Linked DNA regions of Homo sapiens: region 1 is linked to region 2. A link means that fine-mapping ties the variant in region 2 to the expression of a gene that starts in the linked region. Tissue or cell type: tibial artery. Region 2 holds a variant in brackets; the other region holds the start of a gene. All regions are shown on one strand. Distances are between the middles of the regions.

Region 1 (8,182 bases), 110 kb after region 2:
ATTATAAAACATCTCTGTTCTCCAGTGATGTTCTCCAAGGTAGTATCTTAATACATAATAAACACTTTAATAAGAACAATTCTCATTAAATTAAAAAAAACTACTGAACTGAATTTTTACTGTTACTCTTTTTAAAAAGTAAAAATTTAGAAAAAACCCATTTAACTAATCTTGTTCAAAGTCAGGTACTTCAGCCAATATTTGAACGGAGGGTCTTAAGACTCGAAGAAGTCTATCACAAACACAAAACAGTTATTATGAAGCGACAGGGCCCTTTAAGAGTTATATAGTGGTTAACAAAATAACAAAACTCAGGCCAGGTGGCAGTTAATCTCATAATGACCATGAAGTAATGCCAAGTGTGGTTCATAGACCAGCAGCATCCGCATCACCTGAATGCTAATAGAATTCTGACATTACTTTTTTCAAGTTTTATCAATGTAATAGTATAAAATGCTCATTATGAAATAAAGCAGTTGCTTGCCAGCACTCCCGAATATCTAATGGCAATCACTTTAATTTTAACAACTTGTTTTTAAAATCTCAGTATTTTAAAATATTTTCATACTGTTTCTTGAGTTACAAATTTTAGCCATGTCGATTTCCTGTAATTGCAGATGAAGATTTAGCTCACATATGTATTTTTTTTGGAGGTGGGTTGGAAACATTTTAATTGGATGGTAGGGGATGGTAACACTGGACGGGGAGCACTCACAGTTCCAAGAGTTTCCCTCCAAATTATAAAGACGTTCTTGTAATTAGCTAGATTTCCTATAGCCAGGTCTTATGCCCAAGGGAAGGAGGGGAGGATGTGAAAAGCACTGTGGTCTGCCCTCCTGTCATTCGTAGATCCAGTTCTGTAGTTCACACGTCTCTTACAGCTCATCGTATTTTCAGTTAAATCAATATTTAAGTTGTTATAAATATTCTCTATATAGCCAGATAGACTACCATGACTACACTATCTTTCTTTCACAGTAGTTTGTCTTTTCCTGGAGATATCAACTGAACCTTCTTATAAACCTAACCTTCACTTTCCAAATTGACCAGAACTGTCATATTATCAACCTTCCCTCCTAGTCTATGCTCTTTCAAGATCAAGCTTAAAGATCACCTCCTCAAAAAAACAGCCCCGAGAGAACTACTACTTCTTTATCTAAATTTCCCACTATAATTTTTTTTTTTTTTTGAGACAGTCTTGCTCTGTCGCCCAGGATGGAATGCAGTGGTGCGATCTCGGCTCACTGCAAGCTCCGCCTCCCGGCTTCACGCCATTCTCCTGCCTCAGCTTCCCGAGAAGCTGGGACTACAGGCGCCGGCCACCACGCCCGGCTAATTTTTTTGTATTTTTTAGTGGAGACGGGGTTTCACCATGTTAACCAAGATGGTCTCAATCTCCTGACCTCGTGATCCACCTGCCTCAGCCTCCCAAAGTGCTGGGATTACAGGTGTGAGCCACCGCGCCCGGCCTACAAATATTTTTTATATCTTCAGTGACATGCCTTTCTTACAGTAGTTTTAATGCTGTTTAATGAATATTCACTTAAAAAACAAACCTCTGGAAAGCCACCCAGAGTTATTCTCTCCTTAATAACAAGTACTGAAAAGCCTCCCAAAGTCACTGTCTCCTTAGTAAAGAGTACTAAAAAGGCCTTGGCAACTTTTGCCATGGCTATCTGATAAGCTATTTCACATCAGCATACTGTACACACTAGAGCCTCAGAGGTATACTAATGAAACTTATGACCACATTTAGTAGACACATATAATGCCTCTAAATAATTCATGGCTAACTTCAGTAACACCTCTCTAAACATTTCATGGCTTAATCAGAAGTTCAAAAAAATCCAATATATTATCTCCCTTTCCTCCAAAAAGTCATGGTTATTTCTCTCTAGACACTGGCTGACTCCAATCTGTCCCATCGTTGGTAAAAATGAAGATGAAAAACTATCCTAGTCTACTGTAAAGCAGAATAATTATCTAAATGATATAAAAATATGAGATAGGCCGGGCGCTAAGACTAGCGCCTGTCATCCTAGCACTTTGGGAGGCAGAGGCGGGCTGATCACCTGAGGTCAGGAATTCGAGACCAGCCTGGCCAACACGGTGAAACCCCATCTCTACTAAAAATACAAAAACTAGTCGGGCGCCTATAATCCCAGCTACTTGCAAGGCTGAGGCAGGAGAATCACTTGAACCCGGAGGGAGGAGGTTGCAGTGAGCCGAGATCGCGCCACTTCACTCCAGCCTGAGCCAAAGAGCGAATCTCTGCCTCACAAAGAAAAATAAATAAGTAAAATAAAATAAAATAAACGAGATAGATAAGTCACCGCAGTGTGTGTGTGTCCGGGTGGCGGGGGGAGGGGGGGGGAGTAAAATAGACTGACATAGAATGAGAGAATAAGATTTTTTGGTATTTTGTATCATCTCGCTCAACAATGAGAACTAATACTCTTGCGCATTTAAAGTTGTATTTTATTTTTAACTATCCAATATATTAAACTTTGATTACATCAAATGAAATAGATTGTGCACACTCACTATAAGAGAGCTATGATATATGCAGAAGCAAAGGTGCAGGGATCATGCAATAGTTTCGTACCAGATTTCAAGATACCAAGTAGCAAGGAAACACAATGGAATTGAAGGCTGAGGTGAAGTACAGGCATAAGGCAAGGAAAGCAGAACATTCAAGATGTACCTATATACACCAGTTCTTAAAACACGCAAATCATTTCCAATAAGGCACTGGCTCATGTATTTCTGTTGAGGCAGAAGTCAATCTTAGGATGTGGTCTGTACATATCTGCAGATAAGACTGAGAGTGAAGTAAATTTGATTAAGATCGGAGTCAACACTTCTACAAACGTATTGCAGAATAAACGAGCTAAGAAGAAAGGCATACTTCACAAAAGCTGAATTCAGTGTTATTAGTCCTTCATTCAGATGCTTCATTTTTGCATTTTCAATTGCTTTCCTGTGATATAACTTATCTTTATCTTGGTCTTCCCCATTTGTTTTGCAAATAGTTATGTCGCAGGTCATTTACTGGCTACAATAAATATGACAAAATCATAATAAAAACAGTATTAAGTCGCAATCTAGAATAACAATTTAAGTGAATATGACATAATTTTTCTAATGTGGACTATTCAGTACAACTGTCCTCTTCTTCCATACATATTAACCATATGCAAGTCTTCAGAACAGAAAAAGCCATTGTGTCGTAAAGGAAGGAACACGTGGTTAGAAACTTCATTTTCAACACAGAAACACGGAAAGGTAGAAAGTCCGTTTCCTTAAGTGCGGTAAGGTTTTAACAAAAATAAGGCAAAAAAAATTATTGCGTCCTCTCTTTCTCAAACTTGCTTGCCAAACTTGGAGAAAACTGGTTAGAGAAGGGCGATAAGATGGAATTTTCTTAAAAACATATTCATAAAAACGAACTTCTACCTTAAGGAAATCGTCTTCCTTAAATCCTACCATCCTTACACCGGCAAGCTCAGAGGTACGGGATTTCAGCATTTTACTCAGAATTTTGTATTTTTCCTGATGCTCTGGTCCCTACTTTTTAACAAACTTCAAGGCCGCCAGGCGAGATCCAGTTGCCTTCTGGCACCTGACTTCATTAGATGATTAAAACAACTCAAGAAAATTTGGCAATGGGACACTAAAATTGGTGGAGGTGGAGATTTATCCGTTAATTTCTGAAAGCATTCCGGACAAGAGCGAGCTTTTACTTACCCCTCAGGACAAAAAACACGCACCACTTCCCTCCGCAGTCCCTAACCCCAGTGCCGCCCGGACCTGAGGCCGCACACCACTCCCGCTTCACCAGTATCCCTCTGCGAAAACGGTGGAGACGCGCCCGTCCGCCCCTCAGGGGCCTCTTCCCGGACCTGTCAGACGGCCCCGCGGACGCTTTTCAGTCAGGGCAGCTTCGCCGCAAACGTCCGGTAGGCCCGGCGCTCCGAGGCCTCCGGGGCCGGCCCTCAGAGAGGCGACCGACGCTCCTAGAGCCGCCACCCCGCCAATCGCCGCTCTCGCAGGACACTCGCCCGGCCCCAACGTACCTAGAGCGACGACGCACCAGCCGCAGCAATACCCACAGCCACTTCGAACCGCAGCCGTTAACAATGCTGGTCCGGCCAGGACCTGCTGAAGTAGGTCTCCCTACGCCCACCCCCAGCTGATTATGGACCAATGGCAGCGCGAATATGCGGCAGCCCAGCCAGTCAGGCACAGCCAGCTAGAGTGGGCGGGGCGAAGGGTCGCGAGGGGAAATGGAAGTAGGCTGAGGGGCGCCTGGGGTTCGCCTCCGTGGGCGCTTCTTCCGGTCAGCCACCGGGGCTTACCCGCCATAGCGCAGATGCAGGCTCCTGAGCTGGGCCTTTCTTTTGAGTGACTCGTGTGAAGATTTAGACTTTCGAAACTTATTAGGAATAAGACCTTATTTACAAAAACAACTCCTCACCCGGTCGGTAGTTTCCGATTTGAATTTTCTAATATTGTTTGAAAATATTTATCTTATTTACTTTTTTGGACGACTCCTTAAATTTTGTGACTCAGGAGATTGGTCCTAGCACCGTAGTCTTTTTTTTTTTTTTTTTTTTTTGAGACGGAGTTTCGCTCTTGTCGCCCAGGCTGGAGTTCAGTGGCGTGATCTCAGCTCACTGTACCCCCATTTCCCACCTCCCAGGTTCAAGCGATTCTCCTGCCTTAGCCTCCCGAGTAGCTGGGACCACAGGTGTGCACCACCATGCCCGGCTAATTTTTGTACTTTTAATAGACATGGGGTTTCACTATGTTGGCCAGGCTGGTCTTGAACTCCTGGACCTCAGGTGATCCGCCACCTCTGCCTCCCCATATGTTGGGATTACAGGCATGAGCCACTGCACCCACCCGCACCATAGCCTTGAGTTTGCTAAATTGTCCCAGGAACCTGCCAGCCTTGGCTGCTTGTGATTTCATGAGGCCCGATGCCTTAGGTGGCTGTGCACTTGGATGCCATGAACTCACTCAACAGGTGGTCACTGAATGCCCACTGTGTAGAAAATACAGGAAATACAACAGTAGATTAGATCCATAATGCCCTCTTTTTCATTAATTAATTTATTTATTTATTTGACAGAGTTTTGCTCTTGTTGCCTAGGCTGGAGTGCAATGGCGCGATCTCGGCTCACCACAACCTCCGCCTCCCGGGTTCAAGCGCTTCTCCTACCTCTGCCCCCAACAAGTAGCTGGGATTATAGGCATGCGCCACAGTGCCTGGCTAAGTTTTTTTTTTATTTTTAGTAGAGACGGGGTTTCTCAATGTTGATCAGGCTGGTCATGAACTCCCGACCTCAGGTAATCCACCTGCTTCGGCCTCCCAAAGTGCTGGGATTACAGGCGTGAGCCACCACGCTTGTCATGAGGCTAGAGCTGCCTGCCTTGTCACTTCCAGTTAGGAGAAAAATGAGGCAAGTCCGGACAATCTAGGTTGGGTCATCAATGGAATAACATACTCCAACCAGCCAGTTCCCCAAATATGCTCCAGGGATCTAGGGGTAATCTTTAATGTCAATCCTATTTTTATAATTATACTATTTTTATAATAATATAAAGATGATTTTGCTTTTTTCATTCTCTGAGTCAGGAGAGTACATGGAATTTTCTAGAAGCCTCTGGAAAATCGACGGGTGATATTGCTACAGATTGAATACAGAAGCAGACATGAGAATCTAACTACCAACCTGGGCAACAAAGTGAGATACCCACTTTTCTAGAAAAGTAAAAATAAAAAGTTAGCTGCATCCTTCCACCTACACGGGAGGCTGAGAGGACGGGAGGATCGCTTAAGCTTAGGAGTTAGGGACTGCAGTGAGCTGTGATAGTGTCACTGCACTCCACCCTGGGTGATAGAGCAAGAGACTGTCTTAGAAAAGAGAGAGAGAGAGGCCAAGCGCAGTGGCTCACATCTGTAATCCCAGCACTTTGGGAGGCTGAGGCAGCCGGATCATGAGGTCAATAGTTCGAGACCAGCCTGGCCAACATAGTGAAACCCCATCTCTACTAAAAATACAAAAATTAGCCGGGCATGGTGGCGCGTGCCTGTAATCCCAGCTACTCGGGAGGCTGAAGCAGGAGAATCGACTGAACCCGAGAGGTGGAGTTTGTGGTAAGCCAAGATCGCACTACTGCACCCCAGCATGGGCAACAGAGTGAGACTCCGTCTCAAAAACCAAAAAAAAAAAAAAAAGAGAGAGAGAGTCTTACTGTATTAAGTCAGACGTTAAGGAAATTAGCAAAAATGTAAAACAATCCTAATCTTTGCACATTTTTTGTTGTTCTAGAACATGATTTTGAAAATAATTATAGGGTTGCTAAGAGAGATAGTGTGGGAGGGAGTGGGAGGTAGTAAGTTGCAGTCAGATAAGGAATTTGGACTTAATTCAGTTAACAGTGAGTAACTAGCCTTTAGAAATGTTATGTCTATTTAAGGTACTAGGATATCTTGTATGTCATTTTAACAATAGTAATATAATAGGCCAGGTGGACACCTGTAATCCTAGCATTTTAGGATGCCAAGACCGACAGATAGCTTGAGCCCAGGAGTTTGAGACCAGCCTGGGCAATATAGCGAGACCCCATCTCTATAAAAAAATTATAATAATTGATATTTACTGGACATTATGTTAATAAAGTTTATTGTTGGCTGGGTGCGGTGGCTCATGCCTGTAATCCCAGCACTTTGGGAGGCCAAGGTGGGCAGATCACTTGAGATCAAGACCATCCTGGCCAACATGGTGAAACCCTGTCTCTACTAAAAATACAAAAATTAGCTGGGCATGATGGTGCGCACCTGTAGTCCCAGCTACTTGGGAGACTGAGGTAGGAGAATTGCTTGAACCTGAAAGAAGGAGGTTGCAATGAGTCAAGATCACGCCACTGCACTCCAGCCTGGTGACAGAGCGAGACTCCATCTCAATAAATAAATAAATAAATTCATTCACATAATGTGCTATATGAAGTACTATGAAGTCTCTCAATTTGCTGTTTGACTTTTTAAAATAATGCTTAACATAATAACAGATACAGTTGCTTGTACATTTCCTGACTTATAGTAGACACTTGATGTATAGTAACTATTATTATTAAAATTAATAAAGCTGAGAATATCAATTATCTTGAGTAAATTCTTTACATTTTTGTGTTGGAATGCTTTCTTGTTTGATAGTTTTCTTCCATTGAGGATTGTGGCGGGCAGAATTTGTACTCCCATGATCTTTGTCTCCTAGTGTGCGTCTTATGGTTATAAGTCACCTTACATGGCAAAAGGGACTTTGCAAATATGATTAAGGTTGTAATCAGCTGACCTTAAGATGGAGAACTTAACCGGGATTTCCCTGGTGAGTACAGTGTAATCACGTGAATCCCTAAAGGCAAAAGACAAGTCACACAGATGCAGCAGAAAGGAAAGTCATAGATTTTCAAAGCACAGGCAGAACTCAGCCCATGGTTCCTGGCTTGAAGATGAGGGGGACCACATGTAAACCTTGAGAATGAAAGTAGTACTGCCAACGACCTGAATGAACCCAGAAGCAGATTCTTCTGCAGAGCCTTAGCTGGCTGACAGCCTATTGAGACCCTAAGCAGAGTTCCCAGCTGAGTCCACTGTGCTTCTGACTTCTATATAGAACTGTGAGATAAGTGGGTAGTGTTTTAAGCCATTATGTTTGTGGTAACTTTTTATGGCAACAATAGAAAACAAATGCAAGCATTCATTCCACACACTTCTCAGCACTCCCTAAGGCAAGGCGGAAACCCTATGAACTACATTTCCCAGGAGCCCTTGCCTCCTGTATTCTGGATTCAGTTGTGTTTTACCCAGTGTAATGCACTTCCTGAAATTTGAAAAGTGGCAGAGATACATGTTATTGTGGGTTTTTTCCTTAGGCTTTGGCTCTCTTTCGCACCAGTCCCTGTCTCAGTTATTTAAAGGCAGCTGTGACAACAGTGGTTTTCTGAACTTTTCTGCCCTTTGGGCAGCAGAAGCAGCACCCTTCTTATTCTCTGGACCACAGAGGCAGCAGCACAAATGAAAACCAATGTGAGGCTGGGCGTGGTGGCTCACGCTTGTAATTCCAGCACTTTGGGAGGCCGAGGCAGGCGGATCACCTGAGGTCAGGAGTTCAAG
Region 2 (8,182 bases):
GTAAATGAGATATGCTGCTTTCCAGGATAGGTTGGGAAGCTACTGCCCTCCTCAATTCCTCAGAGCAAGGTTGTTCTTCCTGTGTCCTGGGAGTCCCCGTTGTCTCAGGCAGGGAGCTACAGAAAGTTACAAATAATTTTTTGGTGCTGCAAAAGAAATAGCACTGGAACATAAATTTAATTTTCTCAGCAAGGCAATTTTACTTCTATAGAAGGGTGTGACTCACGGATGGAGCAATGGCGAGAGCGCACCTGAACAAGGGAGGAGAAGGGGTTTTTATTCCTGACGCAGGTAGCCCCTACTGCCACGTCCCCTATTGGCTAGGGTTGGACCTCACAGTCTAAGCTGATTCTGACTGGCTATTTTAAAGAGAGCAGGGGTATGAACTGGAGTGGTGGAGTAAGTAGTTTGGCAGGAAGGGCAGTTACAGAACAGGTGACTCAGGATAATTCGGGACACAGCAGGTGACCAGGGGTGACTCAGGATGGAGCAGGTGACCAGGGGAACAGATGTGAACTACTGATTAAAACTGGAAAAGGTTGTCTACTGAAACTAGGGGTGAGGAGAATGAGGAAGTTAAACTATAAAATGGAGAATAAAGAACTGAACATACTGACATACTGATTCTTTGAAGAGAAATTTAGAACTCACTGTATTCAACAACTTCATCCTCTTGAATTTTACTTTCTCTTCAAACTTCCTTAACGTGTCTTGGGTTAGTTGTTCTGCCTGATTCTCTAAAAGAAGAAGCTTCTCTGAATAAAGTGGAGGAGAGTTAAGGGAGGTTTTAGTAAGTGCTGTCTCTATGACTCTCTGCACCAGCCCACGGATGCATGGTATGACACAGCACCCAACAAGAATGAGTACACCTATTACAGCTGCAAGAGAAGTAAGAATTGAGGCTATGATTTCTTTCCATTTACCGAACCACCTTTCTAGCCGCCCTGAGAAATGGTTATTTACTCCTGAGTTTTTGGCTAATTCATTGGACAGAGCAGTTAGACTTTGCAATGCCTTTGTTATACTTCCATCAGGGGCGGTATTGTTTGGGATGAAGGTACAATATTGAGGGTTTTTTTGTTTTGTTTTGTTGTTTGTTTGTTTTTTTATTTGAGATGGAGTCTTGCTTTTGCTCTGTTGCCCAGGCTGGAGTGCAATGGCGTGATCTCAGCTCACTGCAACCTCCATCTCCTGGCTCCAAGCAATTCTCCTGCCTCAGCCTCCTGGGTAGCTGGGATTACAGGTGCACATCACCATACCCAGCTAATTTTTGTATTTTTAGTAGAGACGGGGTTTCATCATATTGGTCAGGCTGGTCTTGAACTCCTGATCTCATGATCCACCCACCTTGGCCTCCCAAAGTGCTGGGATTACAGGCATGAGCCACCGTGCCTGGCAACTACAATACTGAGTTTTAATCATGACACAAACTCCTCCTCTTTCTGCTAATATCATATCTAAGTCTATTCTATTTTCCCAAGCTATCTGGCTGGTAGCCCCTAATTGCTCAGCTATTCGTTTAACAGCATCTCTAGTGTAGTTAATAAACTGCTGTTTGTTGTAATAAATGTAATTTATCCAGTCTACATTCTTATTGGCACCCACCAAAATATTGACTCAACTCCTGCAGCTATTTGATCTTGAGCTTTAAATTTATCTAGTACTCCTTGTGGGACTCTAGCTGCATCTAAATAAACATGAGAGTTGAAAGACCCATAAGGGTCTTCCCTTGTTTTACGATGTTGTGTTTTCCCTCTCTCTGGTTGATGAAATGCCAGGGTGAAAGGGATAGCCAGTTGGACTAGAGCACAAGTCCCGCTCCAGTTACTTGGCAGAGTGTCCAGTAAAGGTCCACCACAATACTGCCACACATCTGCTCGGGGATGACTAAGGCTGACTGATTGGTAAGCTCCTGAAAAGTCTCGTGTCCTTTCAGGTCTCCAAGGAATAAGTTCCCTCCTTGTCGTGAAAGACACGAAGTGAACTTAGTGTTGGGAGATGGAGGCTGGATGGCCCTCAGAGGCTGACCAGCAGGGTGTCGGACTTCGGGATATAGCAGAGAGACAGCTTGGCACGACTTGCTACCCCAGGCTGTGGGATCCTGGAAAAGAGCTACCATAGAGCCCATGCCTGGTCGACTGGAGGACCATCCTAGTGGAAAGCAGACAATCTGGGCCTCTGGCCTGTTGTGTGCCCAGGCATAACAATTGCTTTTGTTTAGCGTGCGAACAGAATATCGGATCCATTCCAACTAGGCATTTGCATGTTGATATCCTGTCTCTATTGCTAAAGTTTGTTTTAAATCATTTACTTCCTCAACGTCCACTTTGATCCTATCACTGGGTATATAACAAGAGAAGGTTTGTTTAGCAGAGAACTTAGGAGAGGGAGAAGGCCGTGCAGGAGGTGAGGAGGCAGTGAAGCACATTTCAAAGGATCTTATGGGGTCCTTCCCTGAGACTTCTGTTCCTATATCATAGAAACAGCTTAATGAAGGGGAAGACCTCTGGGGAGCAGAGATGGTCATCTGTACTGGATTATACTGGTTCAGCTGACAATGGGGAGGGTAACTTCTTTAGTAAAATGAACATATGGTTTTAAGAAGCTGCAAGTACTAGTTGGGGCGGTCCATCCTTGCTCTTTAGTATTTTGTAAAGCATTGGACCAACTTCGGCAGAGAAGCTCTTCTCTAGGAGGACGGGATTCCCAGTTTATACTGGAAATCTTCGTCAAACTCTTCCCAAACTAACTTATCCCAGTTAACAGATTTCCGGTCTAAGGAGAGCTAGGAAGGATAAAAATACTTTTCTGAAGTGGAGAGTTGCCTCTGGTTTGGCAAATCTCCACAGGGCATCACAAGGCAAGCATCAAAAGTAATAGTTTGGGGTGAACTCGACCTAGTTACATTAATAACGAGAGGACTAGCAATAGGAGGGGAAAAGAAAGAGATGCAATATAAGAGGATCAACCCCGTTTTAGCTTTAGCTTCCTTGGAATTGGCCTTGGAATAGCTGTCTGTGATTTTGGAGGGGGTGTTGTTCTTTTGACCCAGGTGTGATGAGTCCATCCGTTTTCTGCTTTTCGAACTGAGATCTCGGTGGTTTGCAGCACTAGGTAGGGTCCTTCCCAAGCCAGTTTGAGTTTTCCCTCCATCCAACTTTTGACGAGGTCGTGGTCCTCAGGCTGATGGTGGTGTACTGGAAACTCTAGGGGTGGCACCTGTGCTAAAAGACCTTTAGTTCTGGGGGAAGAGACAGTGGAAGGTAAACCAAGTATATAATTTCTGAGAAACTGATTGTTTGTTTCAAATGTAGGAAGATCAGTAATAGAATGTAGATAAGGCAATCCATAAAGCATCTCATGAGGGGATAGGCCTATGTCTTTGGGGGGAGCAGTTCAGACTCTCAACAGGGTAATAGGCCTTTCTACTTTCCCTGATGAAGGTGGGTGTCAAGGAGTATCTTCCCATGTTATATCTGGTACCTGTGCTAATTTCTTAATGACATGTGCAGTGAAATGAATCCTATTATCTGAATCAATGTTTTCTAATAATCTAAACATGGGTACAATATTTTCAACTAATGCCTTGACTACATTATTAGCAGTTGTACTTGAAAAGGAAATAGCTTCTACCCAATGAATAAGGTGATCTACTATTACTAATAAATACTTTAGATGACCAGTTGGAGGCATCTCTGTGTAATCAATCTGGATACTTTGGAATGGCCTTAAGCCTGGACTCCTTTCCCTAAAGGGGAAGCTTTTACTGTGCAACTTTCTGTAACCCATTTGGCCAGGGTATAAATTTCTATCCACCCATAAACTCTGAGGACTGCGTCACACATGACCTGGGGCCCCCAATGGTTCCCTTGATGCAGTTGGAACAAGATTTTCCTCATAAGGGGTTTGGATAACATTTCTTTCTGGTCTGGCAATATCCATTTTCTTTCTGAATTCTCTTTAGCACCTATTTTTATTAGTTTTTAGACCAAAGAAAGCCAAACAGCATTTTATATTTGACAGTGCTTCCTGTATGATTTTATACTGGATAAGCTACATTTCACCTTTATATTAATGTGCTATTAATGTTAAACTCAATTTTAATAAAACCTTGTGACATATTTATGCAATTTTAATGTCTGACCATAAGGTAAGATTTTTATAGACTCTTTTAAACCCTTTATAATTTTTGTTAAAGACCAGGTTAGTGCTTTAAGAAAAACCTGTTGTGCTTTTATTTTAATGCCCAGTTCACAGAAAAACTGGATGATACCCCTTTAACTTTAATATGTTTACACACAGAATTTCCTTTACAATTAATGTTTCAAAACTTCCTTAAATTTTCAAAACAATTTTTAAACTTTTAATGTAGGTAAAAATCCACATTCTTATGCCACCTTATAATCCTTTTACCAAAAGTATATTTTATTTTTCTTACACACCTTGCACATAAACTGTTTCTTCAATAGTTTTACATTCAGGAGGCCTAATTACTTTTAAATTATACAACATTTCTGGCATAAATTCCCTTTTATAACATTTTTCATGACTTTCACAGACAATCTTTAACATGCCTTAACTTTCTGACTTGTTGTAAACATCCTTTTCTTTCAACAACCAGTTAATTTATTTTAGGACAAGAATTTACCATATAAGATTGTTTTTACATAAATTCTTTTTTTTTTTTTAATGTCAGAGATGATAACCATTCTTTCCTAAAGCAAACTTCCTTCATGTCTGTGGACTAGACTGCCTACGGCACAAGATTAAAAGTTAGGATAATACATGTTACACTGTTAACTTTTAGCAAACTTTCCTTTTGTTGAAAACCTTGTAAATTTGGGACTTTAATTAAAGAAAGGCTTTTTCTGGTGTCTGGGGACATGG[A/C]CAATAGCTATTTCTTTTGGCAATTGAAGGTTATTTAATACTTGGGTGATTAATTCCTTGGGGACCAGGTCTTGGCCTTTGCTATTAATAAGACCTCGTTCAGTCCAAATTTTTCCAAATCTATGAGCCACTCCAAAGGCATGCTTAGAATTGGTATAGATGGCTCTTTCCTGGTTCTGTAAGTGCTTTAAGGCTTGGCTGAGTGCAAACAGCTCACAAGTTTGAGCAGACCAATTATTAGGCAAATTTCCTAACTCTATTTCTACAAGAGTTTCTCTGTCAATTACTGAACACCTATTGTGTCTTTTTCCCTCAATCATCTGGGAGGAACCATCTGTAAATAAGTGTTGTCCTGTTCTGAAGGGAGTTTCTCCTAGGTCTGGTCAGATCTTTGTATGGTAATTAATTACATCTAAACATGTGTGCTCTCTCTTTAGATTTATATCCCCTGTTAGGAAACCTGCTGGGTTAAGCGAATTATCAGTGGTTAATGTTAAATCATCTTTTTCTAACAGAATAGCCTGATTTAAGATTCTTGAGTCAGTAAGCTACCTTTGTTTTTTGACCTAGGATAGTTCTGACCTGGTGAGGTGTGCTCACAATGAGGATTCCTCTAAAAGTTATTTTTCTACTTTCTTCTGTTAGCACAGCAGTTGCCACTATAGATTGAATGCATTTGGGCCATCCACGGGTTACTGGATTAAGGATTTTTGATAGGAAGGCTATGGGTTGCCAGTGGCCTCTGTGCTTTTGGGTATTTCTAAGGCTACGCCCTTGTTCACACTGAAAAAAGATGGAATGGCTGCTTACAGAGGGTAAAGCTAGGACAGGGGCAGTTACTAATAGATGTTTTAACCTTTCCACCTATTGGATTTCTGGTAATTGCCAAATGGGGGGGTTTGGCCCATCTTGCGTGAACTTTTTGTATAAAAGCCTATCCATAGACGACAGTACCCGACTAATCCTAAAATTTTCTAAGTTCTTGTTTAGTCTCCGGCAGAGGCAAGGATATAATGCCTTCAATCCGATCAAGCTCAATGTACGGTTTACCTTTGCTAATTAAATGACTTGTTCTAATATTTGACATTTGGAGACTCTGTAAACCCTTGGGGTAAGACTGTCTATCCGTATTGCTATTTTTGACTGGAGTGAGGGTCTTCTTACTCAAAGGCAAATAGGTCCCGGCTGTCCTCTGCTAACGGACAAGCCCAGAATGCATCTTTTAAATCTATTACTGTAAACCATTGGTGACTGTATGGGACTCTACTGTTAATAGTATAAGCATTGAGAACAACAGGGTGGGTAGTTTGGACTATTTGATTAATAGCTCTAAGGTCTTGCATTAACCGGTATGACCCATCTGGCTTCTTTACAAGCAGTATTGGAGTGTTTTAGGGAGACATACGGGGTTTAAGAAGCCCATCACTGAGAAGACCTTCAATTATCAATTATAGGTTTTAAATTTATCCTGGCTTTTAAAAGAATAGGGTACCTTGCTTTCTCTTTACTACTTCCCCAGGGGTTTTTAATTTAACATGAATCTGAGGAATCTAACTTTCCTCAATTCCCATCTTTTGACGGTATCTCAGGATGAATGTGTTCTTTGTCTGCGGTGGTGAGCAAGTTTAGGGAGGGGAGGAATTTTCCATGATTGATTTGGAGGCCTAAGCCTAATTCTAGCATCAAACCTCTTCGTAGCAGATTTGTCTCTGCTTCTGGAATTAACAGAAATTTAATATTAGCTGATTTTCTTTTATATATGACCTTTGTTCTTCTTCCTATTTGGAACTTTCTCTTTTGAGGGTGACCTATTTTTAATTTGAAGCATTTGTTTTGTCCTCTTTCTCTCCCTTTGCCTCTCCTTCTCTCTTTGCCTGTCTCTCTGCTTCTCTCTCTCTCTTCTACTCTTTCTCTCACTCTGATTCCCTTTGCCTCTCTTTCTCTCTGCCTCTCTCTCCCTTTGACTCTCTGTCTCTCTCTTTCTTTCTCTCTCAGATTTTTTTTTCTTCTATCTTTGAGTCTCCCGGCTTTACTTTCATACCCTTTATATTGCCTGGAGAGTGGGGGTCTAGGTTTTTATAGGTTCTGGGCCCCTGGGTACTTTGTTGCATGGTGGGCAGAATTTTTGCCTTCTGCTTTTGTTTTTCTTCATCTCTTTATTTTTGAGACGGAGTTTCACTCTTATTACCCAGGCTGGAGTGCAATGGCATGATCTCAGCTCACCGCAACCTCCACCTCCCAGGTTCAAGCGATTCTCCTGCCTCAGCCTCCCAAGTAGCTGGGATTATAGGCATGCGCCACCACGCCCGGCTAATTTTGTATTTCTAGTAGGGATGGGGTTTCTACCTGTTGGTCAGGCTGGTCTCGAACCCCTGACCTCAGGTGATCCACCCACCTTGGCCTCCCAGAGTGCTGGGATTACAGCGCCCAGCCTCTTTGTCTCTTCTTACATAGACTTTTTGGGCTTCTCTTAGAAACTCTTCTATAGGTTTATCTTTCTAGTTCTCTTTCTTTTGTAATTTCTTGTTAATATCTGGCTGTTACTGACAAAATGAAGTTTTAACATTTCCTATGCAAGAGGGTCCTCGAGACCTAGACCAGTATATTTTCTCATTTGTTCCTTTAATCTGTCTAAAAATTCTATAGGCCCTTCATCTTTCCCTTGCTGTATATCAAATGTTCAGGTAAGATTCTGGGTTCGGGGTACAGATTCAACCCAGGTACAGATTCTGGGTTTGGGGTACAGGGACAAATCTATTAGGAAGAGATTTGATGCTAGAATTAGGCTTAGGCCTCCAAATCAATCATGGAAAATTCCTCCCCTCCCTAAACTTGCTCACCACCGCACATGAAGAACACATTCATCCCGAGATATGGTCGAAAGACGGGAATCAATTCTCTAAGGTCCTGCATATTTTCTCGGTGGGCTGTGTTGTTATTGTCCCACTGGGGGTCTTCGGTGGGAAATTTTTGATCTGTTGTAGGAATGTTTTGGCCAGGAGGGTGTTCACAGTTCCTAGGCTCCCATAACGGCTCTATGGATCGTGCCTCTTTCCTCCGAGTAGAGGGGAAAGGGAAATTCTGAATATCCTTTTTACATTGCTCTGTCTCGCGTTGAAGTCCTTTTAGGGAAAGGTACTTAGGCTGGTAGTGAGTGGGCTCTTGGGACGATTCCCAAGAGGCAGGGTTATAAGGAGGGGGACAACAGGGATAGGAGAAGGGTCTGGGACAGCAGCTGATTTTTCTTGTTTTTGGTCCTTTCATTATCCTTTTAATATTTTAACGTTAGGCCTAG

Evidence for each region. PIP is the estimated chance that this variant, and not a neighbour inherited with it, causes the effect.
Region 1: ATF7IP2 starts here. The variant in region 2 is fine-mapped to the expression of ATF7IP2 in tibial artery (GTEx, PIP above 0.99).

Annotation. Positions count from the first base shown.
Region 1 is chr16:10,382,017-10,390,198 of GRCh38, reverse strand. It overlaps ATF7IP2 (activating transcription factor 7 interacting protein 2), which reads right to left and starts at 4,138. Exons shown (of 14, transcript NM_001393719.1): 1 at 4,077-4,138. RefSeq lists silencers at 4,260-4,399, 7,445-7,514 and an enhancer at 7,715-7,784.
Region 2 is chr16:10,487,160-10,495,341 of GRCh38, reverse strand. No RefSeq gene overlaps it. Among named protein-coding and RNA genes, the nearest start is that of LINC01290, 37 kb to the left of the region's middle. The variant A/C (reference allele first, on the strand shown) is at 4,888.